Homo sapiens: one gene and its partners. The protein of the gene in region 1 purifies or fractionates together with the protein of each later gene. This does not show direct contact. Each region holds a gene or a part of one and is shown in the gene's direction. Other genes may lie near its edges. The genes, in order: RALB, EMC2, OCIAD1, EI24, RAP1GDS1, DBT and ANKRD13A.

The links.
Region 2: the proteins of RALB (region 1) and EMC2 purify together in Homo sapiens (affinity purification with mass spectrometry; one large-scale study listed by BioGRID and IntAct). This does not show direct contact.
Region 3: the proteins of RALB (region 1) and OCIAD1 purify together in Homo sapiens (affinity purification with mass spectrometry; one large-scale study listed by BioGRID and IntAct). This does not show direct contact.
Region 4: the proteins of RALB (region 1) and EI24 purify together in Homo sapiens (affinity purification with mass spectrometry; one large-scale study listed by BioGRID and IntAct). This does not show direct contact.
Region 5: the proteins of RALB (region 1) and RAP1GDS1 purify together in Homo sapiens (co-immunoprecipitation; 2 studies listed by BioGRID and IntAct, with this or other methods). This does not show direct contact.
Region 6: the proteins of RALB (region 1) and DBT purify together in Homo sapiens (affinity purification with mass spectrometry; 2 studies listed by BioGRID and IntAct, with this or other methods). This does not show direct contact.
Region 7: the proteins of RALB (region 1) and ANKRD13A purify together in Homo sapiens (affinity purification with mass spectrometry; 2 studies listed by BioGRID and IntAct, with this or other methods). This does not show direct contact.

The regions. Positions count from the first base shown.
Region 1 is NC_000002.12:120,255,658-120,259,817, forward strand, and holds part of RALB (ras-related protein Ral-B), read left to right. Parts: intron 1-4,160. UniProt on the Homo sapiens protein: Multifunctional GTPase involved in a variety of cellular processes including gene expression, cell migration, cell proliferation, oncogenic transformation and membrane trafficking.
Region 2 is NC_000008.11:108,470,820-108,474,979, forward strand, and holds part of EMC2 (ER membrane protein complex subunit 2), read left to right. Parts: intron 1-34; coding exon of another isoform or gene 35-164; exon of another isoform or gene 165-344; intron 345-4,160. UniProt on the Homo sapiens protein: Part of the endoplasmic reticulum membrane protein complex (EMC) that enables the energy-independent insertion into endoplasmic reticulum membranes of newly synthesized membrane proteins.
Region 3 is NC_000004.12:48,840,614-48,844,773, forward strand, and holds part of OCIAD1 (OCIA domain-containing protein 1), read left to right. Parts: intron 1-2,022; coding exon 2,023-2,076; intron 2,077-4,160. UniProt on the Homo sapiens protein: Maintains stem cell potency. Increases STAT3 phosphorylation and controls ERK phosphorylation. May act as a scaffold, increasing STAT3 recruitment onto endosomes. Involved in integrin-mediated cancer cell adhesion and colony formation in ovarian cancer.
Region 4 is NC_000011.10:125,572,164-125,576,323, forward strand, and holds part of EI24 (etoposide-induced protein 2.4 homolog), read left to right. Parts: intron 1-294; 5' UTR 295-364; coding exon 365-406; intron 407-1,292; exon of another isoform or gene 1,293-1,411; intron 1,412-3,099; coding exon 3,100-3,245; intron 3,246-4,091; coding exon 4,092-4,152; intron 4,153-4,160. UniProt on the Homo sapiens protein: Acts as a negative growth regulator via p53-mediated apoptosis pathway. Regulates formation of degradative autolysosomes during autophagy.
Region 5 is NC_000004.12:98,410,967-98,415,126, forward strand, and holds part of RAP1GDS1 (rap1 GTPase-GDP dissociation stimulator 1), read left to right. Parts: intron 1-4,160. UniProt on the Homo sapiens protein: Acts as a GEF (guanine nucleotide exchange factor) for the Rho family of small GTP-binding proteins (G proteins) that stimulates the dissociation of GDP to enable subsequent binding of GTP.
Region 6 is NC_000001.11:100,211,177-100,215,336, reverse strand, and holds part of DBT (lipoamide acyltransferase component of branched-chain alpha-keto acid dehydrogenase complex, mitochondrial isoform 1 precursor), read left to right. Parts: intron 1-353; coding exon 354-520; intron 521-1,386; exon of another isoform or gene 1,387-2,114; intron 2,115-4,160. UniProt on the Homo sapiens protein: The branched-chain alpha-keto dehydrogenase complex catalyzes the overall conversion of alpha-keto acids to acyl-CoA and CO(2).
Region 7 is NC_000012.12:110,033,815-110,037,974, forward strand, and holds part of ANKRD13A (ankyrin repeat domain-containing protein 13A), read left to right. Parts: coding exon 1-143; intron 144-2,446; coding exon 2,447-2,514; intron 2,515-3,544; coding exon 3,545-3,740; 3' UTR 3,741-4,160. UniProt on the Homo sapiens protein: Ubiquitin-binding protein that specifically recognizes and binds 'Lys-63'-linked ubiquitin. Does not bind 'Lys-48'-linked ubiquitin.

The DNA.
Region 1 (4,160 bases):
GGGACGGTATATGTGCTTACTAGAAGCAATTGCAAAATTCTAGCCAGGTCTCAATTTCAAGTTTGTCACTTTAAAAAAAGTAGCTGCTTATAATTTTCCTTAGTGTTCTCCTGGCTGTTTTTGTTTTTGGTGATGGTGGCTAGTTGTTTTTTAGTTGAAATCTAAATGCAGAAAAGAAAAATGCCATTAATTGATAATTACCAATATATTGTTTTCATTGTTGCTTTTGTCAGTGCTTTGTGGGCATTTTTTATATATAGCATTGTTCCAAGCTATACGGCATGAGATGAAGGAAATATAGTAGTTTGGTCCTGCGTGCCTGGCTGCCTGTAAAGTTTGCCTACCTTTTGAATGAGTTTTCTGTTGCTGCATAACAAATTTCCCCAAACTTAGCAGCTTAAAACAACAGACATTTATGATCTCACACAGTTTCTGAAGTTGAAATCTGGGGACAGCTTGGCTGGGTGCTTCTGGCTCATGGTCTCTCCTGAGGTTGCAGTCATCTGAAGCTCGACTGGGACCAGAGGATCTGTTTCCAAAATGGCACGTTCACATGGCTGTTGGCTGGAGGCCTCAGTTCTACACCATGTGGGCCTATGCACAGGGCTTTTCACAACATAGCTTTTCTCCCCAGAGCAAGTGATCTGACGGGGGTGGGGAGAGAGGGAGAGAATGAATATGATAATGATCAAGATGGAAGCAGCAGTATATTCGTGGCTGATATGGTTTGGCTGTGTCCCTACCCAAATCTCACCTTGAATTGTAATCCCCATAATCCCCATACGTTGTGGGAGGGACTCGGTGGGAGGTAATTGAATCATGAGGGCAGTTTCTCCCATACTGTTCTCCTGATAGTGAGTTCTCACGTGATCTGATGGTTTTACAAGCGTCTGGCATTTCCCCTGCTGGCACTCATTCTCTCTCCTGCTGCCCTGTGAAGTGGTTCCTTCTGCCATGATTGTAAGTTTCCTGAGGCCTCCCCAGCCCTGCGGAACTGTGAGTCAATTAAACCCCTTTCCTTTATAAATTACCCAGTCTCGGATATTTCTTCATAGCAGCATGAGAACAGACTAATCCAGTGTCTAATCTTGGAGATGGCATACCATCCCTTCTACCAGCATTCAGACCAGACCTGGCACAATGTGGGAAAGGACTACAAGAGGGGAGGTCAGGGCACATCAGTATTCTTGGAGGCTAGCCACCACAACTTTTTTAAGGTTTAGTCCAGACATCATTGAGAAAATCTTTCTTTCAGATGTTTACTGAAGTATACTGTAGGAGATGGAAAGACAGCTGAGGTCTTTAGTATTGTAGAAGCTTTAATACTATATGTGAAACTTTTATGTTCTTTCTTCCGGTTCTTTGTTAGATGCTGGAATTAGCCAAGTATGCAGTAGCTTTGGAAATAGAAATTCAGATCTTGCTGGTCCCTAAACCAAAAGGAACATCTGAATTTTTTTCTTTAACCCCAAAACAAGTTGGTAAAAAAATATTGCCAAAGTAATCTCCTTTGATGAATGGCTTAAAATTAGTCATTCATTATCTGTGTGTTCTTAAAAATAAAACTCATTGGCAAAGTAGCTGAAAAATTTTGGGGAACCTAAACCCTCTTACTCCTCCCCATTATTTTAAAACTTTGGATACTGCTTGTTTGCCTAGCAGTTCTTCAGTTCACTTTTGAGACCCTCATACATTTTAATTATTGACCTGGATAGAAGGGCGCTATTCTTTTAGCTCCAGATGAAATCTTCCTGAAGTGCCTATAGGTGGAGAGAAGAGTTTCTGGATCCTGAGCCTGAGCCTGGCTAAATGACCTCTAAGTCCCTTCCATCTCTGAAAATTCTATGATCCTTATTTTTTTTTTATAACGAATATCCTTTGAGTTGTGCATATTTATAACAAAATATTTCATTGATCATGTTAAATTGCAACCTCAGAAGACAAGCTTTTCTGAGAATAGCTTTTGTTCTTCCCAATCCAGTTGAAGGTTGTTAGAGTCACTGTTAGGCAGAGTTGAAAAGTCAGCACTATTTGCACTTCCTCTGCTTCCTATTTTTGGCCCCTTGCCCATCCTCTGCCCTAATTTATGAGCTAGTATCTTTCTTTTCTTTCATTCTACTTTCCTTGTAATCCCCCTCCTTCCTCCCACAGGAAGGATTGGTGGCCAGTCCTTTACTGCTGATAGCTGATGCTATTGTTAGGAATGAATTTTAGCCAATGTGTTACCTCTAGTAATACTTGCATGGCAAACCTTTTAAAAATCTCAAATTATATGTGTTCATGTAGTAAACACTGCCATTTTTTAACATCCTAAGTAGCCCTAAAATTTAGTCACTTTCCTCATGTGCATTGTTGTCTCCTTAGTCCCCACCGTGTTGCCGGCCTGGCCTGGTGCATACCCACATCTGCTCTTGACCCCTCTGTTTTTCTACTCTGTAGCCAGAATTACCTTTTCAACATTCAAGCCTAATTATGTTACCCATTGACTTGAAACACTTCAGTGGCTTTCCAGTGCTTTCAGTCAAAGGTCCCAAATCCCTCAACTTGGCCTACACTGGGGTCTTGAATGATCCCGCCCTTCCTTACCTCCTCAGTGTCATCTTGTACTGGGCTCTGCCTCTTTCTCTCTGCTGCAGATAGCTGTGAAGGTCTTTCTCGAGTTTCTTGAGTGGACTTTGCTTCCTCTTGCTTCAGGCCTTCCTGAATGCAGTGTGTGTGTGTGCAGGCACGCGTGATTGGGGGTGGGGGAGTGTGGAGGAGTCCTAGGTAGGAAAGCGCTTGGCACATTCACAGGGCTGGAAGAAGGCAAGGAAAAGGCCACGGAGGCCACGGCCAGTGGAGGGTTTAGCTGCCGCTCATGGTGAGCCTTTAAGGAGCGTTAAGCACAGTTTCATGTGCAGTGTTAGAAGCCCCATTGGAAGGGCTGTGTGGAGAACAGATTGAAGAGGGGCTGGAGTGGTAATGAGGGGTCACTTAGGAAGCTGGGGCTGTTGAATGAATGGTGGCAGAGAAGATGGAAGAAGTGCATGGCTTTGAAATGTATGTTGGAGATGGAATAGCTAGAAATGGTCATGAATTGAGCTGGGGAGAGGCAATGGGAGTCAAAAATGACTTCCAGGTCCCTGGCTTTGGTAACGATACGGATACTAGCGTGTCCGGAATTGGTGGGTTCTTGGGCTCACTGACTTCAAGAATGAAGCCGCGGACCCTCGCGGTGAGTGTTACAGCTCTTAAGGTGGCACGTCTGGAGTCTGTCCCTTCTGATGTTCAGATGTGTTCGGAGTTTCTTCCTTCTGGTGGGTTCGTGGTCTCGCTGGCTCAGGAGTGAAGCTGCAGACCTTCGCGGTGAGTGTTACAGCTCTTAAGGTAGCGCGTCTGGAGTTGTTCGTTCCTCCCGGTGGGCTCGTGGTCTTGCTGGGCTCGGGAGTGAAGCTGCAGATCTTCGCGGTGAGTGTTACAGCTCATAAAAGCAGCGTGGACCCAAAGAGTGAGCAGTAGCAAGATTTATTGCAAAGAGTGAAAGAACAAAGCTTCCACAGCGTAGAAAGGGACCCCAGCGAGTTGCCAATGCTGGCTCGGGCAGCCTGCTTTTATTCTCTTATCTGGCCCCACCCACATCCTGCTGATTGGTAGAGCCGAATGGCCTGTTTTGTCAGGGCGCTGATTGGTGCGTTTACAATCCCTGAGCTAGATACAAAGGTTCTCCACGTCCCCATCAGATTAGTTAGATACAGAGTTTCCACACACAGGTTCTCCAGGGCCCCACCAGAGCAGCTAGATACAGAGTGTCAATTGGTGCATTCACAAACCTTGAGCTAAACACAGGGTGCTGATTGGTGTATTTACAATCCCTGAGCTAGACGTAAAGACTCTCCACGTCCTCACCAGAGCAGCTAGATACAGAGTGTCGATTGGTGCACTCACAAACCTTGAGCTAAACACAGGGTGCTGATTGGTGTATTTACAATCCACGAGCTAGATATAAAGACTCTCCACGTCCCCACCAGACTCAGGAGCCCAGCTGGCTTCACCTAGTGGATCCCGCACCGGGGCTGCAGGTGGAGCTGCCTGCCAGTCCTGCGCCATGCACTTGCATTCCTCAGCCCTTGGGTGGTCGATGGGACTGGGCGCCGTGGAGCAGGGGGTGGCGCTCGTCGGGG
Region 2 (4,160 bases), on another chromosome or scaffold:
ATATGACATTGTTTCTTTTCCTTCTTTTTGACAGAATAGAATCAGATTCTCATGCGCATTTTCTTGTGCATGAATATTTAACCTTGTTCTCATACTACAAACAACTGATGAGAAACAGAATGAAGACATTTGTCTATTGTCTGTGGTCTATATATATAATGTGATCTAGAGGATTGAGGTAGTCTATTTGCATAAGTCTAAGGAAAGTGGGAGCTAAAATAAAAGTAATAGCTGTAATTTAATGAATGTATACTATATTCTAGGAACTGTTTTTCAAGTTCTCTGCTATACTCTGAAACAGATATTCTGGTTTTGATTAGGAAATTATTTCCTGAATCACATTCAGTATAGATGATATGCTTGTATGTACACATATGTAAACATACTCATGATTTCTTACACATGTGAAACAGTATATAATACTTATATTTAAATACATGAAATTGAATTTTTAGAGTATAGTAAAAATAATTAGCATTAATTTTATTTTGTTTCTAAAACAGGTGACAGTCATTTAACATTTTTTGTACTTTCTAAAGATTTTCTGACTAAAAGCATTTTAAAACATTTCAAATCAACAAGGAAATTTTTTTTTTCAAGTTAAAGGAATACCTAATGCAGAAAATTTGAGAAACACAGTAAAGCATAAAGACCAAGACAAAAATTACATGTAATTCCAGCATCCTAAGTTAACTATAGTTTGTTTGGTTTTTGTCCTTCCTTATCTTTTAAAATAAAAGCCCAAAATAAAATTATCTTCCGTAGTTTATACTTTCCCTTAGTTATATTTTGTTCAAAAATTTCTTGTCACTGTAACAATCTACAGTGTGTTTTGAATGGCTTTATATTATTTCATCTTACTAATTTACCCTAGTATTTTTAACGAGTTTCCTAGGGAGATATAAAGGTTGTTTTATATTTTTATATATAATGCTGTAGTGATCATTTTTATTTTGTTTCCTTGGGTTAAATTCTTTGAAGTAAAATTGCTTGATTAAATAAGATGTACATTTTCTGTGGTTTTGATAAATAGTTCCTGATTGTTCCCTAGAATGGTAACATCAATTTACTTGCACACCAGCATTTACTAGAGTCCCTCTTTAACAACACTGGATACTATGATTCTTTTTTAATCTTTACAAGTTTGATAGGTGAAATTGGTTCTACCTTTTTAGTTCATTTTTACGAGCTCTTTTTATAAAGGAGAGCAACCATTTGTCAAAAGTATATCCTTGTTATATGCTTTTTAAATACTGACTTCTTAAAATTATAGAAACTTTACATTTTTAGAAAATCAGATTCATCAATTTTTAACATTATCATGTCTGCTGTCCTTTAATAGCTTAAAAATATATCACCTTTTCCCCCTACTTCATTTGCAATTTTATTTTTTTGCATGTATTTCTAATATTTATTTCATCATCAAATTTAGGTTATACCTTATTTTTAACCTACCATTAAATTTACTTATTTTTTTCACCATGTGGTACCACCTTCAGTTTTGCTTTGTTTGGAATCTAAAGAGTTTATTGAAACAGAGGTGAATGTACACTTAAGAGAAATGAACTGAGAAATCTCAAAAAATGAAGATTTACAAAGATGTAGGAGCACCTAAAAATATTTTTTTAGAGAAAATGATAATTATGGTCAGCCTACCCTTTTATCTAGTATCACAAAACTCTTTTTGGTCTTAAAGCTAGTTAGTTACAAAATGACCATTTTTTTTTTCTAATTGAACACTTAGAAGGAATATTTATGTTTAGGTGACTGGAAATGCATATCTACAGGTTTTTTTGAAACTGTGAAAATTACAATCAGTTCACTTGATTCATTTGACATGTTTGAGCAAGTCATTATAGGAGGCAGGAATTTTTTGATGGAATGTTAAATTATCGTAGGATATCAGTTTTAGCACCAGTCTTGGGGACACAGTGGCAAAAACGTAGCAGTTTCGAAAATGTCAGATATATTTAACATTCGATATTCCTTTCTGCATATGAACAGTTGTAAGCTTTTTTAAGTATAATAGGTCGCAGGCAGCTTTGGTAGCCTATATCTAGAACTATTTTTTTTCTTTAAGAGACAGAGTCTACAACATTTCCCAGGCTAGACTTGAGCTCCTGGGCTAAAGTACTCTTCCCACCTCAGCCTTTTGTGTAGCTGGCACTACAGGTGTGTCACTGTGCCCAGCTCTGGAATTTTTAAACTCCAAATAAATATCTATAGTATAATTTTCATATAGCCCTATTTAATGTTTCTATAGAGAGAAAAAGGGATATAGAATTGTGCCATGTAACCTTTTTATATTTTTAAGTTACTTTTATAAGTTTGTTTCTGATTTATAGTTTGTTTTTAGTTATTCCAGGGATATATGTTACATCCATTGACCATATTGAGACACTTGTTCTAAAGTTTTAAAACTACAGTTAATTTTTTTGTGTCAGCACTACCAATATGTATTATAGGTTAAGTATCCATAACCTGAAAATCTGAAATCCACAATACTCCAAAATCTGAAACTTTGAGTGCCAACATGATGCTCAAAGGAAATGCTCATTGGAGCATTTTGGATTTGGGATTTTTGCGTTAGGGATGTTCAACCAGTAAGAATGCAGATATTTTAAAATCTGAAAACTTCTGAAATCTGAAACATTTCTGGTCCCAAGCATTTTGGTTAAGGGATACCCAACCTTTGTAAGCAAAAATACATTCACATTATGAAAGACAAATTTTTTTACTTCATTTGTTATTGAAACTAGATACTATACAGCAAGGAACAGTTAGTATTATACATTAATTATGATTGTGATTATAGTTCCTTTTCATAAGTCCAGCCTTTTAAAATTCCATATCAACGGAATTACCACAATTCTTTAAGGAAAAATTGTGATGTTGGTAAAGTAACACACAGTACCAAATACTGTAACCTTTAGTTATATATACTTTTGTAAGGAAGAGAAGAAAACTTTATTTAGTTCTAGTACTGACTCTAATATTGTAATAACAATTGTTATTCTGTTTTAAGTAGATTCAAATTATTTTTACTTCTCTATTCTTAGTCTTGTTGAGTCACTGTGTGTAATGAATTAACTTCTCTATGCACCTAGAATAGTACTGGCTATGTATTATCCCTGACAAGACTGAGGAAATAGTCACTTTCTGCGTGGCCTAACAATGGCCTAGAAAAGCTGGACTAGACCATCTGTTGAGCTCCTTCTAGCTCTAATTTTATTTAATTCTATATTTTATCCACAAAATTAGTTTGATACTGTACTTTATAAAATTGGGGGAAGGAGTCCTTTTCTCATATGTGATGCTAATTGATTTTTGAGAAAATATCTTGGTATTCATTTTACCCTAAGAGCTGCTACTACCTGCCCATTTTATCTTGCTTTATGCACCAGTGTCACAGTTGTGCTCAACCCATTTAAATGTCTAAGAACTTTTATTCTTAGTCTCAATATGAATTTTTGGCATCATACTATTAATAATTAAAGGAACACATTTAGAAGAGAACTGTCTTTTGATAAAGTGTTTAAGGTAGAGACAAATTTTCCCTTTTCTTTTCGAGTGATAAATATATATTAGGTAGGTAGTCATAACACATTTGTTTTAGACATTTATTCAATCATTTGTTCAGTCTTATTAAATACCTATCATGTGTCAAGAACCAATGCTAGGTTTTGAATTTAAAAATGGAAAGGGCTAAATAGCTGCATGATCTTGGATGAGAGTACACACACACACACACACACACATACATATATATATGTGGTCCTTCATAAATCTAAAATGCTGTAATTATTAGGTAATCTGCAGGGTGTATTTTTTTTCCTCAGTCCCTTTGGGTGTGACTGCTGTACACATTTTCATGTTACCATTGACATCTTCAGTTTTTCAATGTGATGTGTAATGCATATAAGCAGCATATGTAGTGGTTGAAGAGTACAGGCTGTCTGGAGTGGCACAGCCTGGGATTCAGTTTACATCTCTGTGCCTCAGTATTCTCAGCTCTAGCATGTTGATAATAATTTCCTTCTTCCTAGGGTTTTGGTAGGATTAAATGAGTTAATACATGTAACACATTTAGAACAATGCATGACACGTAATAAGCATTTAGTAAAAGCTATTATTAGTATACATGTGTGAAACAGGAAAAT
Region 3 (4,160 bases), on another chromosome or scaffold:
ATATATGGTTTAGACCAGAGTTGAACAAACTAGCCCATGGACCAAATCTGTTTTTGTATGCATGAGCTAAGAATTGTTTTTACATTTTTAAATGGTTAAGAGGCTGGGTGCAGTGGCTCACGCCTGTAATCCCAGCACTTTGGGAGGCTGAGGTGGGCTGATTACTTGAACCAAGGAGATCGAGACCAGCCTGGGCAACTTGGCGAAACCTCATCTCTACAAAAAAAAAAAAAAAAAAGAAAAAAGACAAAAAATTAGCCAGGCATGGCGGTGCATGCCTGTAGTCCCAACCACTTGGGAGGCTGAAGCAGGAGGATCATCTGAGCCGGCAGGTTGAGGCTGCAGTGAGATGAGATTGTACCACTGCATTCCAGCCTTGGTGATAGAGTGAGACTTTGTCTAAAAACATAAAATAAGATAAAATGGTTAAGAAATCAAAGGAAAAGAATATTTCATTACGTGTGAAATTACATGAAATTCATATGTTTGCATCTAAAAATAAAGTTTTGTTGGAACACAGCTACGTTCATGTGTTTTTGGATTGTCTTTCGGTGCTTTTGCTTTAAAACGGCAATTGAGTAACTGGGACAGAGATTGGCCCACAAAACCCAAAATATTTACCATCTGGCTCTTCATAGAACGTGTTTGCCAACCTCAGGTCTGGAACAGCACTGTCCAGTGTGGCAGCCAGTAGTCACATGTAGCAATTTAACTTTAAAATAACTTGCAGTGAAAGGATATAAAGCAAAATCATAAAAGGAAAGGGAGCATGGGGTGAAGTCCGGCGGAAACCAGGTCCCAAGAGTTCTCTTCCCAGGGAGTGTAAATTTCTCCAACAGCTAGTCATAACAATGTGTGAAGTTGTATCTACCCGGGGAACTCATTAGAGACTCAGTGCCCACAGTTTTTATTGGGGGCTGGTCACTTATTCACCCTCTGCCTAACAGGTACCAAAATTCCAGACTCCTAGAATGAAAGCAGATGTTTGGCATGAACTGTATTTGTACAAACAGTTTGGGCACAGTGAGCCAATTACGCATATCAATGGGGGGAACTGTTTACCAGTCAAGTACCAAGACCAAATTGATCACAGGGTTGGTCACTCAAAGACCAACTTCCATTATCATAAAAAATTCTGTTAGACAGTGCTGGTGTAAAGAACAGTGATTCATAGCTGTTTTTAAGTTATAGCCCCCTTTGAGATTATGAGTTTTGGATTTTTCACTCTCGGTTTTAGGCATATATATATATAGATGTAATATTTTCATATAGTTTAAGGAGTTCACTAGTTTAGAAGAAAGAACATAAGTGTTTAAAATATGTGCTTTTTAATTTTTGCCCCAGCCACCGTATGATTACGGTCAAATATGTTTTGTATTTTGGTTTAGATGGTATACTAGAGCTTAAAAGCTTGAGATCTGGTATCAGACAGATTTTATTAGAATCTGTAACCAACCATTCAACTAGTTGTTTGGCCTTGAGCAAATTACTTAACATCTCTAAGCTTCAGTTTCCTTATCTTTAAAAGGGTGGTAATAACATTATCTACCTTATAGAAATATGATAAAAAGTATAATAAATGAGATAATGCACATAAGGCGCTTAGCATGATGCACAGAATTTAGTCATTACTCAGTAGTGGTTCTTACTTGTAACTTGTTTCTTACCTCTCCTTCATTAACTTTTTCCCCTTCTCTTACTTCAGAAGTAATTTTGAGTCACTTTTACTGTGTTGTCTTAGTTGATGCTGTTGATGAACAGCTGGCTATTTGGAACCTAAGCCTAGATGGTTCATGAATTATATTGTTTAATATTTTGTGATGTTTTCTTAAATTTAAAATGCTCCTTTAATTTTTCCACTATGTATACAGTACAGCTTTTAAAAATGGAACAGTCTTTTTTAAAGGTCTTAGTTATGCAATATAATTCCTAGATGGTTTTACTGCTATTCATTTATCTAATGAACTTTAGACAAAATCTTTTACTTTTGTTGATGTTAACAAGGTCTTTTTCTTCCTATAGCTGTGCCTTTGGCTGCAACAAGTATGTTGATTACTCAAGGATTAATTAGTAAAGGTAAATATTTAAAATTTGAATTTATTTAGCATTTTGGATACCATGTTTGTTTTGTGGTATTTTCCAGGTCTTTAGAAAAAGTAAAGATAACAATGTATCATATTAAACACTATGTAGAAATTCATTGATGAATTTAAACGTTTTATCTCTGTGGACCCACTGGCTCAAATATCATGACTTGAGAATTTCTCCTGCACTAATAGCATCATTAACAATCTGCAAGAGCAAGAAGGTAACTAAACACCAGTATTAGCAGGGCAAACCTGGTCTAGGTGGGCCAATAGCAACATTATTGCCTAGGAGCTTGTTAGAATGCACATTCATGGGGACCAGGAGTCTGTGTTTTAACAAATTCGAAGTGATTCTTATATAATGATTTAAAGATCAGTAGCTCTCTAAACCAGCTTTGTCTGATCACCTGGGGCGGATGAGTGGCGGTGAGTTAGCATTATTTAAAAAATCAGAATCTCAGGGGTCTGGCAGGTGATCTATTTTTAACGAGCCACCGAGGAGACTTTCTTGTCCTAAAGTCTATTGGCTCAAATAGTACAGTAGTGGAATTGAGTTTAGATTGAGTATTAAATGTCTTGAGTCCTGCATTTAAAATGTAGTGGAGTAAGCAGTAGAGTTGCTTAATTCCTTTACTTCATGAACTATCTATCTGGTAATGGGAAGGTGTCCCAGAAAAGGATGGTGACCTTAGGATGGCCTGGAGGCCTATTGTTTTAATTAACTGGCTCCTTCAAAAATGTGACTTAATGATTGGAAGATTTAGCCTTTTCACATTAGGATATGATGTATGGTACTTAGTTTTGACACAATTAGTTGATAAAAGTAGTTTTGGAGGCAAATGAGAGGATTTTTGGGGTAAAAATTTATTTAAGGAACTTCTGAAGAACTTCATTACAATACAGTACCATGACAAAAATCTTAAACATAGAAGCGAGTCAAGATGTATGCACTTATATGTCCTTAAGACTAAGCTGTTTTATAGACTGAGATTGGTTCTGTATTGTGAAACAACAACAACAACAACAACAAAACAAAAAAAACCCCACTTGAATTACATTCTTTGTAGGAAAAACTGGCACAGGGATGAAATTACAGTGTTTATTATTGTTCTGCTTCTTTTATCTATTTTAATCCAGTGTGTCATTTAATAATGATTGGAGCTAGGTATGCAGAAGGTTACACAAAAGAATTTAATAGCTGCTAGTAGTTCACTGGAGGAAACAAATGGATGTGAACATATGTTGAAGCAAATAGAAAATTTAATTACATACTTAATAAGCTACTAAATTGTATAGTAGAGACTCTAAGAGTTGTAGGTGTTCAAAGAAGAAAGATCTTTGTAGGGCTGTTGTAATCAAGGAAAGTTTCTTGAAAGAAGTGGGTTTTGAAGGATGGGCAGGATTTAGATTAAATGAGAAGAAAGAACATACCAGGAAGGAGGGACCTGATGATGAAGACAAATAGGCATAACTATTGGGAGAGGCAATCAGGACTGAACTGAAGAGACAAAATCATGCAGGGAGGAGTGAAAAATCCATTAAATAGCTGAAGTAGAGCCAGGAGAAATTATAATTTGGATTAGGTTATGAAGAGGAGGAAGTTTTTTAGAGATTTTGGGTTTAGGTGCAGTTGAAGACTTTGGGCTACTTGAGGGTACGGTAGAAGTGATATTGGGAGGCCGAGTCGGGTGCATCACAAGGTTAGGAAATCGAGACCGTCCTGGCCAACATGATAAAACCCCATCTCTACTAAAAATACAAAAAAATTAGCCGGGCGTGGTCGTGCGTGCCTGTAGTCCCAGCTACTCAGGAGACTGAGGCAGGAGAATCGCTTGAACCCAGGTGGCGGAGGCTGCAGTGAGCTGAGATGGCGCCACTGCACTCTAGCCTGGGCAACAGAGCGAGACTCTGTCTCAAAAAAAAGGTAAAAATTGAGAGAGACTTTAAGAAAAGAATTTGGAATCCACCAAGACATTTTGCATTTAATCAAAATCCCTGACATTTTGTACAGTGGTCCTTTTGTGTCTGTGTGGATTGGTTCCAGGACCCTCCAGAGGATACCAAAATCCACAA
Region 4 (4,160 bases), on another chromosome or scaffold:
GAGGAGGTTACTGGTCAAGAGCACATTGTAAAAATGTAAAATGTAAAAATGAGAGGGTGTAAAATGTAAAACCCCTTGTAAAAATGAAAGGGTGGTGAGTGTTTTAGAAAAAAAATAGGGATTTTAGGTTTCAGCTGTACAGGAATAGCTTCACTTGATTCACTCTATTAGTGCTAGAATCTACTGCTATCTTACTAGAGCTACAAGTATGTGAGGTCATCATGTGGAAATGTGCATGAAGTAACTTATCTTTAAAATAAATATTTGCCTCCATTATGTTCCATCTGTTTCCAGATCCTTCATGATGAGAGATTTGGGGACACTTCTCTCTCCTGTGTGTAGTTGATAGTTTGGTGGTGAAGAGATGGCTGACAGTGTCAAAACCTTTCTCCAGGACCTTGCCAGAGTGAGTACATCTTGTTTATAGGAATTCATCTCTCGGCCTTTTTTTTTTTTGCTGAAGGAACCATCTAGGAAATCCTTTAGGGTTTTTGGAACTTTTATCATATTTCTTGGGTTCTTTACATAAAGGTTGTTATTCTAGACCACACTACTCAAGAAATAGGTATTGTTCTACATCTTGCAGACAGTCTTGCAGGTGCTTGGAAGACCTCTTCGGTGGATGTCTCCAGTATTGGGACCCTAATCATCTTGGCTTCAGAGCTTTTTTTTTTTTTTTTTTTAACTTTTTATTTTGGAATGTGTTTAGATTTACAGAAAAGTTATAAGGTAGTACAGAGAGTTCCTGTATGTCCTTCATCAGCTTCCCTTAATGTTAACATATAACCGTGGTATATTTGTCAACTAAGAAATGAACATTGGTTCAGTACTATCACCTAAACTAATTAATTCAGATTTAAATTAGAGAACCTATCTTTTTTTTTTCCCAATTTTTCATTTATTTAAAAATTTTTCTGTTAAAAGTAGAGACGAAGTTTTGGCATGTTGCCCAGGCTGGTCTCAAACTCCTGGGCTCAAGTGATCCACCCGCCTTGTCCTCCCAAAGTGCCGGGATTATAGGAGTGAGCCACTGCACCTGCCAGAACCTTTTTTCTCCCCATTCTACAAGCTGTGCACGTGAGGAGGATACTCTAGGAAAATGCCCTATAAAGATCTGGTTAGGACCCAGTCATCCAAATTACCAATAGCACAAAAGTCTGCTACTTTTAATGTATGTCTGAAGCCTAATAATGTCTCACTTGTAACCCCCTCTTATATTTCCACTAGCATGAAAGAGGCCAATTCTTGGAGTGGGGAGGTTCTTTCTTTAGTGGAAGAGTTTAAAAGGTTACCTTTATGGCCAGGGGAGGTGGCTCACAGCTGTAATCTCAGCACTTTGGGAGACCAAGGAGGCAGGATTGCTTGAGTCTGGGAGTATGAAGCAGTAGTGAACTATGATGGTACCAGTGCACTATAGCAGGGCAAGAAAGTAAAAAGGTTATTACTTTTGAGTAAAAGAGGGAGGATTGAAAGAGTATCTTAGAAGGTCTAAAAAGACTTTATGCATATGATCTCCTTTTTTTTTTTTTTTTTTTTTTGACAGAGTCTCACTGTGTCGCCCAGGCTGGAGGGCAGTGGTGCAATCTCGGCTCACTGCAACCTCCACTTCTTGGGTTCCAGTGATTCTCCTGCCTCAACCTCCCAGGTAGCTGGGATTACAAGCACACACCACCACGCCTGGCTAATTTTTATATTTTTAGTAGAGACGGAGTTTCACCATGTTGGCCAGGCTGGTCTTGAACTCCTGACCTCAGGTGATCTGCCCACCTTAGCCTCCCAAAGTGCTAGGATTACAGGCATGAGCCACCGTGCCCAGCAGCATATGATCTACTTTTAACATCTTTACCTTGTTGTCTTGCCATTCATGTGCTGTAAAATTTCAACCCTCCCAGCCTGGCTAACACAGCAAAACCCCCTCTCTACTAAAAATACAAAAAAGATTTAGCCAGGCGTGGTGCACATGCCTATAATCCCAGCTACTCAGGAGGCTGAGGCAGGAGAATCGTTTGAACCTGGGAGGTAGAGGTTGCAATGAGCCAAGATCATGCCACTGCACTCCAGCCTGGGCGACAGAGTAAGACTCTGTTTAAAAAAAAAAAAAAATTCAACCCTGTGTTGGTTCTACAGTGTGCTATTTACATGTTTGTCTGCCCCACTGGACTGTAGATGTCTTAGAGGTGGGGATCCTATCATCCTAGCATGTACTAGGCCCTCAGCCATTTGAACTTAACTATCTTAGATAGTTGGAGTTTCCTGAGTTAAAAGCAAAATTAAGAGTAAAAATTACTCAGACAAAAAAAGATCAAAGGCACACTGTGCCAATTTATGTTCCTGTTAACAGATAATACATCAACTTGCCCATTTCTCTGTATTCCAGCTATTATTTCTAAAATTCGTTTTGTCTGATAACAGTAGACGAGAATGCTATCCATTCTTAAATCCAGCTTGGCCATTGCTTCCAGAATAATTTTTTCTGCCTTCTCATGAAGTTGAATGCCCCAGTGCTAACACTCTACTTGGGCCATACATCTGTTGTGGCACTTACTAAACTATGTGTGCTTGCTTCTGCAGCACATGTACTAAAATTGGAACAATACAGAGATTACCATGGCTCCTGTGCATGACACACAAATTCATGAAATGTTTCATATTTAAAAACTTTTTTAAAAAAAAACCTTTAATGTAATTTTTTGGTTTACTTGTGTGCTTTTCCTACTAAGTTATAAGCTTCTTGAGCATTTCTATATGACAATATATAGCTTATTGAAGATACTCAGTACGTGGGTGGGAGATGGATGCATGAGTGAATTCTTAGCCTTTGGGAGGCTTAGGCAGGAGGATTGCTTGAGGACAGGAGTATGAAACCAGCCTGATCAACATGGTGAGATCCCCATCGCTACAGAAGAAAAATTTAAAAGCCAGGTGTGGTGGTGCACATCTGTACTCATAGCTCTTTGGGAGGCTGAGGCAGGAGGATCATTTGAACCCAGGAGTTGGAGGCTGCAGTGAGCTATGATTGAGTCACTGCACTGTAGCTTGGGTGACAAAGCAAGACCCTGTCTCAAATAATAATAATAATAATGATAGCCTTTTCTATAGGGAATCAAAGACTCCATCTGGGGTATTTGTACCATCTCAAAGCTAGATGCTCGAATCCAGCAAAAGAGAGAGGAGCAGCGTCGAAGAAGGGCAAGTAGTGTCTTGGCACAGAGAAGAGCCCAGAGTATAGAGCGGAAGCAAGAGAGGTAAGGAGTGCATGCCTGATATCAAAATGTCCAAGGGAGGGAAGACCTTACATAGTGACTTGATGTTTCAGTGCCATTTTATTTCTTTTGTGCTTTTTCCCAGAAAAATGTTGCAAGTGATTTCCCCCCAACAACATTGACTTAAACTAGGGTCTAACAATAATCCTTGCTAAAAATGTCATGGTGTTAAATCAGAAAGCTGAATAGAGAATCGCAAAATATTATTTGGTTTGATAGATACTTCTAGGGAAGCCTGTGTGGATTTATGTATTAATAGAAGAACCCTGGCCCCACACTTTCTCTTAATCTTTTCCATCATCAGACTTTAGAAAATAAATTATTTTTCTTTTAAAAGCTGGTTCCATATATATACACATTTTTTTTTTTTTTTGAGACGGATTCTTGCCCTGTCACCAAGCTGTCACCTGAGATTGCCGTGGTGCAATCTCAGCTTACTGCAGCCTCTGCCTCCCAGGTCCAAGCAATTCTTCTGCCTCAGCGAACCGGCTGGCTGGAAGTACAGGTGCGCACCACCACGCCTGGCTAATTTTTTATATTCTTTAGTGGAGACAGGGTTTTGCCATGTTGGCCAGGCTGGTCTCGAACTCCTGACCTCAGTTGATCGCCTACCACGGCCTCCCAAAGTGTTAGGATTACAGCCGTGAGCCACTGCGCTTGACCATTTTTTTAGTCTTTTCTCATTGACTGACATTAGAACATTGGGAGAACATGAGGCACTGAAAAATAATACAGTACCCACAAAAGATAAGATATAAAATGAACTACTGAATGACAATTAGGAAATAACTTATGCTTTATAAACTAAATACATGTGATCTTTTCCAGTGAGCCACGTATTGTTAGTAGAATTTTCCAGTGTTGTGCTTGGAATGGTGGAGTGTTCTGGGTAAGTTC
Region 5 (4,160 bases), on another chromosome or scaffold:
TAGGTGATAGATACATGGTTATTTGCTTTCTAATAATATATTAAACTTAACTTGGATATTTTATGCACTTCTCTGCATTTGTGGTTTTCTTTCACTCTTTAAAAAAAGTTTTAAAATACCTATATATGATGCATACATGATACATACAAGTGTACATTCATACATATGTGTGTAAACAGTGGTGATAAAGATACTTGTCCTTGGACAGAATGGTTTTGGTAAATGTGCTGGGCTGTCTGCTTTGGCAGAATGTCTTGCTAATCCTAATTAAGGTAGTTTAAGCCTCCTATATATTTGTTTTCAGGTATTTGATTTCAGTCAAATTGTGAGAAGAGATTATCTGTAAACTTTAACATTGAGACATTTAGGCTGGGAGTGATGGCTTACGCCTGTAATTCCAGCACTTTCAGAGGCCAAGGCAGAAGGATTGCTTGAGCCAGGAGTTCAAGACCAACCTGGGCAACACAGCAAGACCCTGTCTCAAAAAAAAAAATTAATTAAAATTTTAAAACTACAATATTGACACATTTAAAATTTCTTAAATGTCTTAGGTCCTATTTCTTAGGGAGAAATTTGTTTTTTATCTCATTGGTGTTTTGGCAAAGTAAAAATTTTACTGTGACCTTCAGTCAATTTTAGGCCATAAAATAACCTATAACTTTCCTTGCAGTATTTCAAAATAACAATGTGTTGATATTTATTACTGTTTTCCCCTCTGCCTTCACATCTGTTTTATAATTGCACAATGGATAGGATGATACCATTGAAGGCTTGTTTTTGGACTAATTCTTTGCATGTATCATCCTTCATTTTCCCAGTACACGAAGGAGAGTGATTTCAGCATTAGAAGTTGGGATTTGTATAGTTCAAGGATTTTAGTATTTTTAAGGCTTTTTCATCATAGTTTTTAATTCTAGTCACCACACATCTCTAGCCCTAGCATTCTGTAACCAAGGAAACGCCCTACTTTTAGCATGGCACAGTACAAGTGTACCTTTTAAAGAAATATTCCAGGTTGAATACTCTGTGTATTCTGAGATAATATTCAAAAGAAGATCAGTGATCCTAGTGATTCAAAAAAGCCAAATTTTAACACATTAAAATTGCCTGAAAGTCTTAAGTATTTATTTTTAAAAGTCTTTATTTTTCCTAAATGATAAGCTGAAGCTGCCATTGCCATATATGGATGCATATACAGCTTAGGGAAACCAATGACTAAAATAAAATCCAACTGAAAAAATAAAGTTTAAATTTAAAAATTTCTGGCCAGGTACAGTGGCTCATGCCTGTAATCCTAGCACTTTGGGAGGCCAAGGCAGGAAGATTGCTTGAGGCCATGAGTTCAAGACCAGCCTAGGCAACATAGTGAGACCCTGTCTCTACAAAAAAAGTTTAAAAATTAGCCAGGCATGGTGGCATGCACTTTTAGTCCCAGCTACTCAGGAGGCTGAGATAGGAGGATTGCTTGAGCCCAGGAGTTCAAGGATGCAGTGAGCTATGATCATACCACTGCGCTCCAGCCTGGGCAACGGAGCGAGACACTGTCTCTTAAACAAAAAATCTGTGTTGCAAATGTATTTTTCAGGTGAGTTGACTAGCATTTATCTTAAGGAGTATCAACTACACTCAAAGCATTTAGATAGGCCAGTTTAGGTTAAGATACAAAGATGAGTAAGGTGTATCTATTGGGGGAACCAGCCCCCAATATTTCAATGTATGTTCTATTTTCCCTAAATGTCGGCCCATCTGAGAAATAGAGAAAGAGTACAAAAAGAGGAATTCTACAGCTGGGCCTCCAGGGGTGACATCACATATCGGTAGGTCCGTGATGTCCCCTGAGCCACAAAACCAGGAAGTTTTTATTAGGGATTTCAAAAGGGGAGGGAGTGTACAGGGAGTAGGTCACAAAGATCACGTGCTTTACAGGGCAATAAAGATCACAAGGCAAGGGCAAAGCAAAGATCACAAGGCAAAGGGCAAAATTAGAATTACTGATGAGGGTCTATGTTTGGCTGTGCACGTATTATCTTGATAAACACCTTAAACAACAGAAAACAGCGTTCGAGAGCAGAGAACCGGTCTGACCTCAAACTTACCAGGGCGGGATCTTTTCCGCACCCTAATAAGCCTGAGGGTACTGCAGGAGACCAGGGCGTATTTCAGTCCTTATCTCAACCGCATAAGACAGATACTCCCAGAGCGGCCATTTATAGACCTCCCCCCAGGAATGCAATTCCTTCCCCAGGGTATTACTATTTTTTTTTTTATTATACTTTAAGTTTTAGGGTACATGTACACATTGTGCAGGTTAGTTACATATGTATACATGTGCCATGCTGGTGCGCTGCACCCACTAACTCGTCATCTAGCATTAGGTATATCTCCCAATGCTATCCCTCCCCGCTCCCCCCACCCCACCACAGTCCCCAGAGTGTGATATTCCCCTTCCAGTGTCCATGTGATCTCATCGTTCAATTCCCACCTATGAGTGAGAATATGCAGTGTTTGGTTTTTGTTCTTGCGATAGTTTACTGAGAATGATGATTTCCAATTTCATCCATGTCACTACAAAGGACATGAACTCATCATTTTTTATGGCTGCATAGTATTCCATGGTGTATATGTGCCACATTTTCTTAATCCAGTCTATCATTGTTGGACATTTGGGTTGGTTCCAAGTCTTTGCTATTGTGAATAATGCCGCAATAAACATACATGTGCATGTGTCTTTATAGCAGCATGATTTATAGTCATTTGGGTATATACCCAGTAATGGGATGGCTGGGTCAAATGGAATTTCTAGTTCTAGATCCCTGAGGAATCGCCACACTGACTTCCACAATGGTGGAACTAGTTTACAGTCCCACCAACAGTGTAAAAGTGTTCCTATTTCTCCACATCCTCTCCAGCACCTGTTGTTTCCTGACTTTTTAATGATTGCCATTCTAACTGGTGTGAGATGGTATCTCATGTGGTTTTGATTTGCATTTCTCTGATGGCCAGTGATGATGAGCATTTTTTCATGTGTTTTTTGGCTGCATAAATGTCTTCTTTTGAGAAGTGTGTGTTCATGTCCTTCGCCCACTTTTTGATGGGGTTGTTTTTTTCTTGTAAATTTGTTTGAGTTCATTGTAGATTCTGGATATTAGCCCTTTGTCAGATGAGTAGGTTGCGAAAATTTTCTCCCATTTTGTAGGTTGCCTGTTCACTCTGATGGTAGTTTCTTTTGCTGTGCAGAAGCTCTTTAGTTTAATTAGATCCCATTTGTCAATTTTGTCTTTTGTTGCCATTGCTTTTGGTGTTTTGGACATGAAGTCCTTGCCCATGCCTATGTCCTGAATGGTAATGCCTAGGTTTTCTTCTAGGGTTTTTATGGTTTTAGGTCTAACATTTAAATCTTTAATCCATCTTGAATTGATTTTTGTCTAAGGTGTAAGGAAGGGATCCAGTTTCAGCTTTCTACATATGGCTAGCCAGTTTTCCCAGCACCATTTATTAAGTAGGGAATCCTTTCCCCATTGCTTGTTTTTCTCAGGTTTGTCAAAGATCAGATAGTTGTAGATATGCGGCATTATTTCTGAGGGCTCTGTTCTGTTCCAATGATCTATATCTCTGTTTTGGTACCAGTACCATGCTGTTTTGGTTACTGTAGCCTTGTAGTATAGTTTGAAGTCAGGTAGTGTGATGCCTCCAGCTTTGTTCTTTTGGCTTAGGATTGACTTGGCGATGCGGGCTCTTTCTTGGTTCCATATGAACTTTAAAGTAGTTTTTTCCAATTCTGTGAAGAAAGTCATTGGTAGCTTTATGGGGATGGCATTGAATCTGTAAATTACCTTGGGTAGTATGGCCATTTTCACGATATTGATTCTTCCTACCCATGAGCATGGAATGTTCTTCCATTTGTTTGTATCCTCTTTTATTTCCTTGAGCAGTGGTTTGTAGTTCTCCTTGAAGAGGTCCTTCACATCCCTTGTAAGTTGGATTCCTAGGTATTTTATTCTCTTTGAAGCAATTGTGAATAGGAATTCACTCATGATTTGGCTCTCTGTTTGTCTGTTGTTGGTGTATAAGAATGCTTGTGATTTTTGTACATTGATTTTGTATTCCCCAGGGTATTATTAATATTCCTTGCTGAGAAAAGAATTCAGTGATATCTCTCC
Region 6 (4,160 bases), on another chromosome or scaffold:
TGTTATTTATAAACTCCTGGAATGATTAACTTCCAGAAGAGTGGCTTTGCAGGAAAGCTGTTAGGGAAATACATGGCTTGCATTCTTTTGAATTTTTTATATAACACAGCATTTAAAGCAGTTACCTGCTATGTTATTGCATTTGCCACTGAGTGTCATGATGCAGTCAGTGTTCCAGCTTTGAAATTAGTGACTTTCAGTGTAATGTAATGAAGAGAGTAGTAAGAGGAAGGGTTTAACTGAGAGAGTAAAAGACATTAGAGAACCTTCCATTTTAGTTTCTTTAAAAAAAAAAAAAAGGATGAAGAGATTTGAGAATTTAAATAAATGAATAACAATTTAATGCTTTTCAGGCTTTCAAAAAGCAATGGTCAAGACTATGTCTGCAGCCCTGAAGATACCTCATTTTGGTTATTGTGATGAGATTGACCTTACTGAACTGGTTAAGCTCCGAGAAGAATTAAAACCCATTGCATTTGCTCGTGGAATTAAACTCTCCTTTATGCCTTTCTTCTTAAAGGTGAGATTCATTCATTTCAAACAAGGCTTGAGTAGGACATTTATTTGTTTGTTTGTCTTTTTGAGACAGAGTTTTGCTCTTGTCACCCAGGCTGGAGTGCAATGGCACAATCTCGGCTCACTGCAACCTCCACCTTCCGGGTTTAAACAATTCTCTTGCCTTAGCCTCCTGAGTAGCTGGGAATACAGGCACCTGCCACCACGCCTGGCTAATTTTGTATTTTTAGTAGACACGTGGTTTCGCCATGTTGGTCAGGCTGGTCTTGAACTCCTGACCTCAGGTGATCCACCCCCGCCCCAGCCTCCCAAAGTGCTGGAATTCCAGGCGTGAGCCACCATACCTGGCCCCAAGTAGGACATTTAAATTTTGCTTTGCCAACATGCAATATGTTGACTGTGGCCTTGAATAAAAATATTACTTTTCGCAACATCAGATAGTTAGAAAATGTGCCATTTCTTTGTTCAATAGGAAATTATAAAATTGAGATTTCTGTACTATATTTTTAGCTGCTTATCTTTGAGCTAGGTAGAGACAATTCTGCCAGTTAAGTAAAGCCTCTGATCCTAAAAGGATCACTCCAACCAAGTCTTGGTTTGAACTAAAATGAGACTTGATATTAATTTTGCAATATCACTGACATATATTTAATATTTATTTTCATTTACTCAACCAACTTATATTGAGGATCCTGGGAATCATTTCTAGTGCTAAGCCTTGGGACCAGTATAAAATGGAGTAAGACCATCAGCTAACCTTGAGCAGCATACAGTCTAGCTCACATTAGTGACTGTGCAGCAGCTACCATGTGCCAGCCTCCATAGTAAGCATGCTGTATACATTATCTCTCTCTTTTTTTTTTTTTTTTTTGGTATGAATCTCATTTATTGAAAAGATTATTTCTCACCTTTCTCAAATTGAAGACTGCAAAAAATAAAAGCAGTGCTTCATTGAGTTGTCATGAGCCTGGGGCAGGAGCAGCAGCGCTGCCTCTCCACGCTCCGGGAAACCGCAGCTGGCGTGTGCCACATCGGTCCCACCTCGCTTTACAAAACAGTCCTGAAGCTTAATCAAATAAAACTATTGAACACAACATTTACATTAGAAAAAGAGAGCTGGGTGTAGGAAAGGCCGAGCCTGGTGTTCCCTTTAAGCGAAGGTGGCTCCACAGTTGGGGCATCTTCGCTCCCTCAAGGCAAAACAGCAAATGAACCCAAAGGGGAACAGGATGATGGCCAGGAAGATGCCCAGGAAGGTGAAGCAGTCCTGCAGCCCCCCGACCCTGCAGACGGGACAGCCTCCCACGACCACGATAGAGTTGGTAGGATAGCGGATGACGGTCCAGCTGTGGATGTTGTAGACCCTGGGATGGTGGGTGGGTGTCCGTGTGACGAGGTAGGAGTAGGGCGGCTGCGGGGGCGCGGCGGGGATGGCGCCGTAGCCGTGCGGGCCTCACGCGTAGTCGCCCTGGCCGGCCTCCAGGTTGTAGGCGGGCGGCCGCTCCTGCAGCAGAGTCTTGTGGTCCATGGCGGCCCGGCTCGGCTCTGTCGGCCCCGGCGGGGACGCGGCGCACGCCCCGGGTGGCTCGGGCCCCTCTGAGGCAGACGCGGGGCAGGGCCCATTATCTCTTAATTCTCAGAGTAACCCTGACATGTAAATATTACTGTCTCCACTTTCCATTTAAGGAAATTGGGGCTCAGAGAGGTTGAGAAACTTGTTAAGGACTTACAGCTAACAGGTGGAGAAGCTCTTTCAGGTTCTGGTCTGTTTTACTCAGAAGGACATACTGATGTCTGTAATGCCAACATGTCCAGTCCTTTCTCTACACTGCACCAAGACTGGTCTTCCGTAAATCAAATTACTGTAATATTCTCTGATTCTTTTCAGTGGTTCCCTTTCATTACCTTCAGGATAATTTGTATGCCATACTCCTTAGTGTGGCATACAAATGTGTTATAAGTCTCTGCTGCCTGCCTCTCCATTCTTACCTCACTCCCTCATATTAAGGTACCCATAATTGCTGGAATACACAATTCCACCTGAAGTGCCCGTTCTTCTCGATCAAACACCTGCAAATCCCAAACTGTGGTCAGGTACAGACTCCTTCTGTGGCTGTCACTATTTGAATTAAATACTTTTGTTTCCCACTGTTAACTTATCTCAGTGCATTGAGTGCTTACTCAGTTTTCTCTTCACTTACTCACTTACTGGGCGCTGAGCCTCATGAGGCAGAAACTATTCTTCTTTATCTCCCTTTTTCTTTCTTTCTTCTTTTTTTTTTTAGAAAGGGTTCACTTTGTTGCCCAGGCTGCTGGAGTGCAGTGGCACAATCACAGCTCACTGCAACCTTGAACTCCTGGGTTCAAGTGATCCTCTGCCTCAGCCTCCCGAGAAGCTGGAACCACAGGTGTGCACCACCACACCTGGCTAATTTTTTTTTATTCTTAGTAGAGATGTGTCTCGCAGTGCTGCCCAGGCTGGTCTTACAGGGATGAGCCAGCATGCCTGGCTATTTTGTTTTAAAATAAAACATAAGTTTCAGAACATTCGAAAAAATACTACACAGTATTGTAGAGGGGGAACAAATGACCTAATCCATTGACACATACCTTGTATTTTCTTGGACAAAATTTGGATTATACTCAAATATTTTTATATGTAACAGTTTAGACTAACCTTAGGGGTTTTTAGATAAAGACTATTAAAATTACAGTTATTGAATCAAATGCTTACTAAAACTTTCAAGTTGGCTGGGCGCAGTGTCTCACGACTGTAATCCCAACACTTTAGGAGGCCAAGGCAGGCAGATTGCTTGAGCTCAGGAGTTCAAGACCAGCCTGGGCAACATGGTGAAACCCCATCTCTACAAAAAATACAAAAGTTACCTGGGCATGGTGGCACACGCCTATAGTTCCAGCTACTCGGGAGGCTGAGGCAGGAGGGTCACTCGAGCCAAGGACGTTGAGGCTACAGTGAGCTGAGATCATGCCACTGCACTGCAGCCTAGGTGACAAAGAAAGACCCTGTCTCAAAAACAAACAAGAAAAACTTCCAAGTCATAAAAATTAAGGAACTCGTAGCAGTTCTTTTAATTATATTTTTCTTCAGTTGATCTACTCTCTTAACCTGTCCTAACTAATGAAAATGAAATGTCTCTATATATTTAAACTTTTTTCTTAACTCTCTAGTTCAAGAATTTGATTTTTTTCCCATCAAGACCCCGATGCACTGAGAAGAATAACACAATGCATGTAAAGAACTTTAACAGGGACCAGACAAGGGCAGTGGGGGAGGGAATTCTTTTTAAGAATGATCTTAAGCATTTTTATTTTGCTATCTTTTAAATTCAATACAATGCATGGCCACCACATGTAAGGTATGAAACTTGATTATTAGATCCCAAAAACAGATTATCAAGAACATTTTGGGTACAGTTAGGGAAATCTGAATATGGACAGGAGAGAAATGGTATTAAGTGACAAAAGGGAGAAGGCAGCAGAGAGGGAAAATATAAATGCTATTCAGTGAGACTTGAGCTGTAAAGTAAATGTTCAGGACATCTCTGCCCTTCAGCTGGCCAAGGACACCAAGTAGCAAACTGGCATCTACTGGTCAGTGCGCTTTGAAATCCTCGTTACGTGTT
Region 7 (4,160 bases), on another chromosome or scaffold:
TTGAGGTTGATCAATCTGTGTTTGAAATTCCCGAATCTTACTATGTTCAAGACAATGGCAGAAATGTGCATTTGCAAGATGAAGATTACGAGATAATGCAGTTTGCCATCCAGCAAAGTCTGCTGGAGTCCAGCAGGAGCCAGGTGTGTTTATCAGAATACTCTAATGGCAGGGCGTGGGAGGTCTTACCCTCTGGGTTAGCCTCAGTGTTTGGCTAATCTGAAAGATTTATTCTAAATATCAAGTTTGACACATTCATGGTATTTGCATAGGTTATACTTTGTGCATCTGGTCTTCTTACAAAAGCTTGTTATGTAAGAGACCATCTACATAATCCCAGTCAGCACCATTCACAAGATGTCTTCAGGCAGACTTTCCTTTTCCTCATATTCACGCACATAGCTTGTAATTCTGTACTTTTTGAGATGTGCTTCATCATTTTCTAGCACTGAAGCAGTATCATATTTTTCCTGAAGGATTACCTGTGTGTCAGTAGTCTCGGATGAAGGTAGTGAAGTGGATTTGAATCCCACTTCCTCCACAAAGGGTACCATCTCCCTAAACTCTCTCTGGGTCTCTAGTGAAACAGAAAATGAAGGACAGGACAGACCTGTGTAAGCAGTAGGCTTTGTGTGTGTGTGTGTGACTCTATGTTGCCCAAGTCGGAGTGCAGTGGCTGTTCCCCGGCATGATCATATTGCACCCTCAAACTCCTGGGTTCAAGAGATCCTCCCACCTCAGCCTCCCAAGTAGCTGGGACTAAAGTCATGCACCACTGTGCCCAGTAGAACAGTTGCCTTTTATTGTCATATCTGGTTCTCCCTCCATGCCTCACCTACCTGGGACAGTCCAAGGCTTGAGGTCCTCCTCCCCTAACATCAACTCCTTCCATCTCCTTCCTTCTGTGCCTCCTGGCTCTACTAGGGTAGGGTCTGGTCTGCCTCCAGCACCCTCTGGTGTGTCCTGGGTTCCTGCAGTCCATTTATTTGTTAATTGGCTTTTTCTTCCATTCTTCATTCAGATATTTGCAGAGTACCTTCTTTGTGCCAGGCTCTGTGCCAGGTGCTGGGAATTCTCTGGGAAGCAGCCCCTGCCCTCACAGGGCTGCTGCTTTGAGAACAGTGCTCACACTCCAGCGTCCTCACTGGTTCAAGCTTATAGCTTTCTGGTTCTATTCCTGAGTCTTAGTGCTTGTGTAATGTGAGTCTACCTCCTCCACTTCCCCCTGCCACCACCATGGCCCCATTCCCAGACCCATTCAGTTTTCCGAGCCAGACCCCAAAGCAAGCATGTTCCCTTTGGGAGGCATCCTGGGAGAAGACCCCTGCACATCACCATCAGCCTGGTATGCTTTTCCTTTCCCTATGTAAGTGAGCTTAGCTCCCCCCGCCAGCTCCCAAGTAGCTTCATAAACCTTGTTGACCATAAGTTTTAACAAGGGAAGTAGCCAAAGTCAAAGACTACCAGTATTGAATTGTGTCTTCTAATCTTGCCCTAGAAGAATTACTGGCTGGGTGCAGTGGCTCATGCCTATAATCCCAGCACTTTGGGAAGCCAAGATGGGAGGACTGATTGAGCCCAGGAGTCTGAGACCAGCCTGGGCAACATAGTGAGATCCTATATCTACCAAATTTTTTTTTTTTTTTAATTTTTGAGGCAGAGTCTCACTCTTTTGCTCAGGCTGCAGTGCAGGGGCACAATATTGGCTCACTGCAGCCTCTGCCTCCCAGGTTCAAGTGATTCTCATGCCTCACCCTCCCGAGTAGCTGGGATTACAGGTGCGCACCACCAGACCCAGCTAGTTTTTGTGTTTTTAGTAGAGACGGGGTTTTACCATGTTGTCCAGGCTGATCCCAAACTCCAGACCTCAAGTGATCCACCAGCCTTGCCCTCCCAAAGTGCTGGGATTAGAGGTGTGAGCCACCATGCCTAGCCTCTACCAAAAAATTTTAAAAGCCAAGTATGGTGGTGTGCACCTGTATTCCCAACTAGTCAGGAGGCTTAGGTGGGAGGATTTCTTGTGCCCTGGGGTCAAGGCTGCAGTGAGCTACGATCACATCACTACCCTTGAGCCTGGACAACAGAGTGCGACCCTGTCTCTAAAAAAACAAAAACCTGCTTTGGTCACTTGAACTTTGCCCAAGGTCAGCTGTGTTTTTGCTTTTCGTTGTGTATATCTTCCACGTGGGTTAGCTGTATTTAAGAGACTGATTTTGTACAAAGGATGAGAAGGTTGTGGCTGTGAGTTAGGCTGTGGCATGTTACTACCTCCCACTTAGGTGTTGTTTTTGAGGTAACCCAAGTCCCTGTTAGCTTTTCACACAGCACTATTGATAATGGTCATGGAAAGACTTTTAATTTGGTTCTTGCTGCCATCGTTTCCTTACCAGAATGGCACCAATTTCTCCTAAGACGTATTCATGTCTATCACATTTGTCTTTGCCAGGAACTTTCAGGACCAGCTTCGAATGGAGGGATCAGCCAGACAAACACCTATGACGCCCAGTATGAGAGGTGATTGACTGACGTGACTCTGGAATAAACCAGGGTGAACACAGGCCTGGACACAGGCGAGCAGACGCGTGGCACTGTGCATTTGGTCCTCAGGCAGATGTACGGTGCCACAAACTGGCAGGAAAGACTAGAAAAAGTAGGCCAGGAGCGGTGGCTCACGCCTATAATCCCAGCATTTTGGGAGGCCGAGGCAGGCGGATCACGAGGTCAGAAGATTGAGACCATCCTGGCTAACACGGTGAAACCCTGTCTCTCCTAAAAAAAATACAAAAAATTAGCCGGGCATGGTGCCAGGCACCTGTAGTCTCAGCTACTCGGGAGGCTGAGGCAGGAGAATGGCAAACCCAGGAGGCGGAGCTTGCAGTGAGCCGAGATCGCGCCACTGCACTCCAGCCTGGGCGATAGAGCGAGACTCCGTCTCAAAAAAAAAAAAGACTAAAGTGTTGGCTCTCTTGCTTCCTCTTGTGGCAGTTACTTATAATAACTCTAGACTCTTGATAGCAAGTTTCCAGGAATGGGTGATAGAATTGCTGACTGGTTCACAGGTCAGTGCCATTGGGGGAAACGTACTGAGTCAGTTTTTTCTGATTGGTTTGATCTTCTATGAATGATGTATGATCACAGGGCCTAGATGTCCTCAGTGGGAAGTTTATATAATTGTAAAGATAAGGAAGTTTGGAGGAACAGCTCCAGAGATTACGGGAAAAACCGCGAGGATTCATTTTACGAAGACTTATACTTAAGGTGTCTATGAGAGCCTGTTGATGAAGAACCTGAGTTTTGCTTTAAAACAGATCCAAGTTCAATTCCCAGCCCTATCACTTACTGGTTGGGTGGTCTTGGGCAAGATTGTGGGGTTTCTCACCCGTATACAACACCTACACCGCCAGTTATGTGGGATTAATTGGCATCATGCATATTAAATGCCTGGCACAGTGTGCCCTTGGTAAGCGGTTAAGAAATGTAGTTACTGCTGCCACCATGATGATGATAGTAGTGACTCTCCCTTTTTATCTGTTTTCCAACCCAGGGCCATCCAGGAGAGCCTCCTCACCAGCACAGAAGGCCTGTGCCCCAGCGCCCTGAGCGAGACAAGCCGTTTTGATAATGACTTGCAGCTAGCCATGGAGCTCTCTGCCAAAGAGCTGGAGGAATGGGAGCTCCGGCTCCAGGAGGAAGAGGCTGAGCTCCAGCAAGTCTTACAGCTGTCACTCACTGACAAATAGACCTTTCAGCCTGTGAGCCTCTGCACAAAGCAGAGGCTGTGGGCTGTCACAGATGCTGTGTCAACCAGGGCCCTAGGGCTAAGGGCCTGCACCTTGCGTGCATGCAGCAGGCAACAACTGCCCCTTCTTTATGCAGAGGTGCAGAACCAGGGACTCCTGGGCCCATCCAGGCTGCTCCCTGGGGTGGAGAAGGGACCAGGGATTGCAGGCCCCATCTCCAGGCTAAGGGGAGGAGAGCATCATCACTTTCCATTAGCTGTATTGGCTTGCAGGTCACATTTTTACTACCAGCTTTAGACAAAACCCCAATCCCCGCAGGTTTGTAGATAAATTTTTATCAAGGAGTGATAACAAGACAAGTTATTGCAGAGTCAGGGTGCTTTTATATATAAGAGCAGCAGCCGCCTTTGTAAAGTGTGA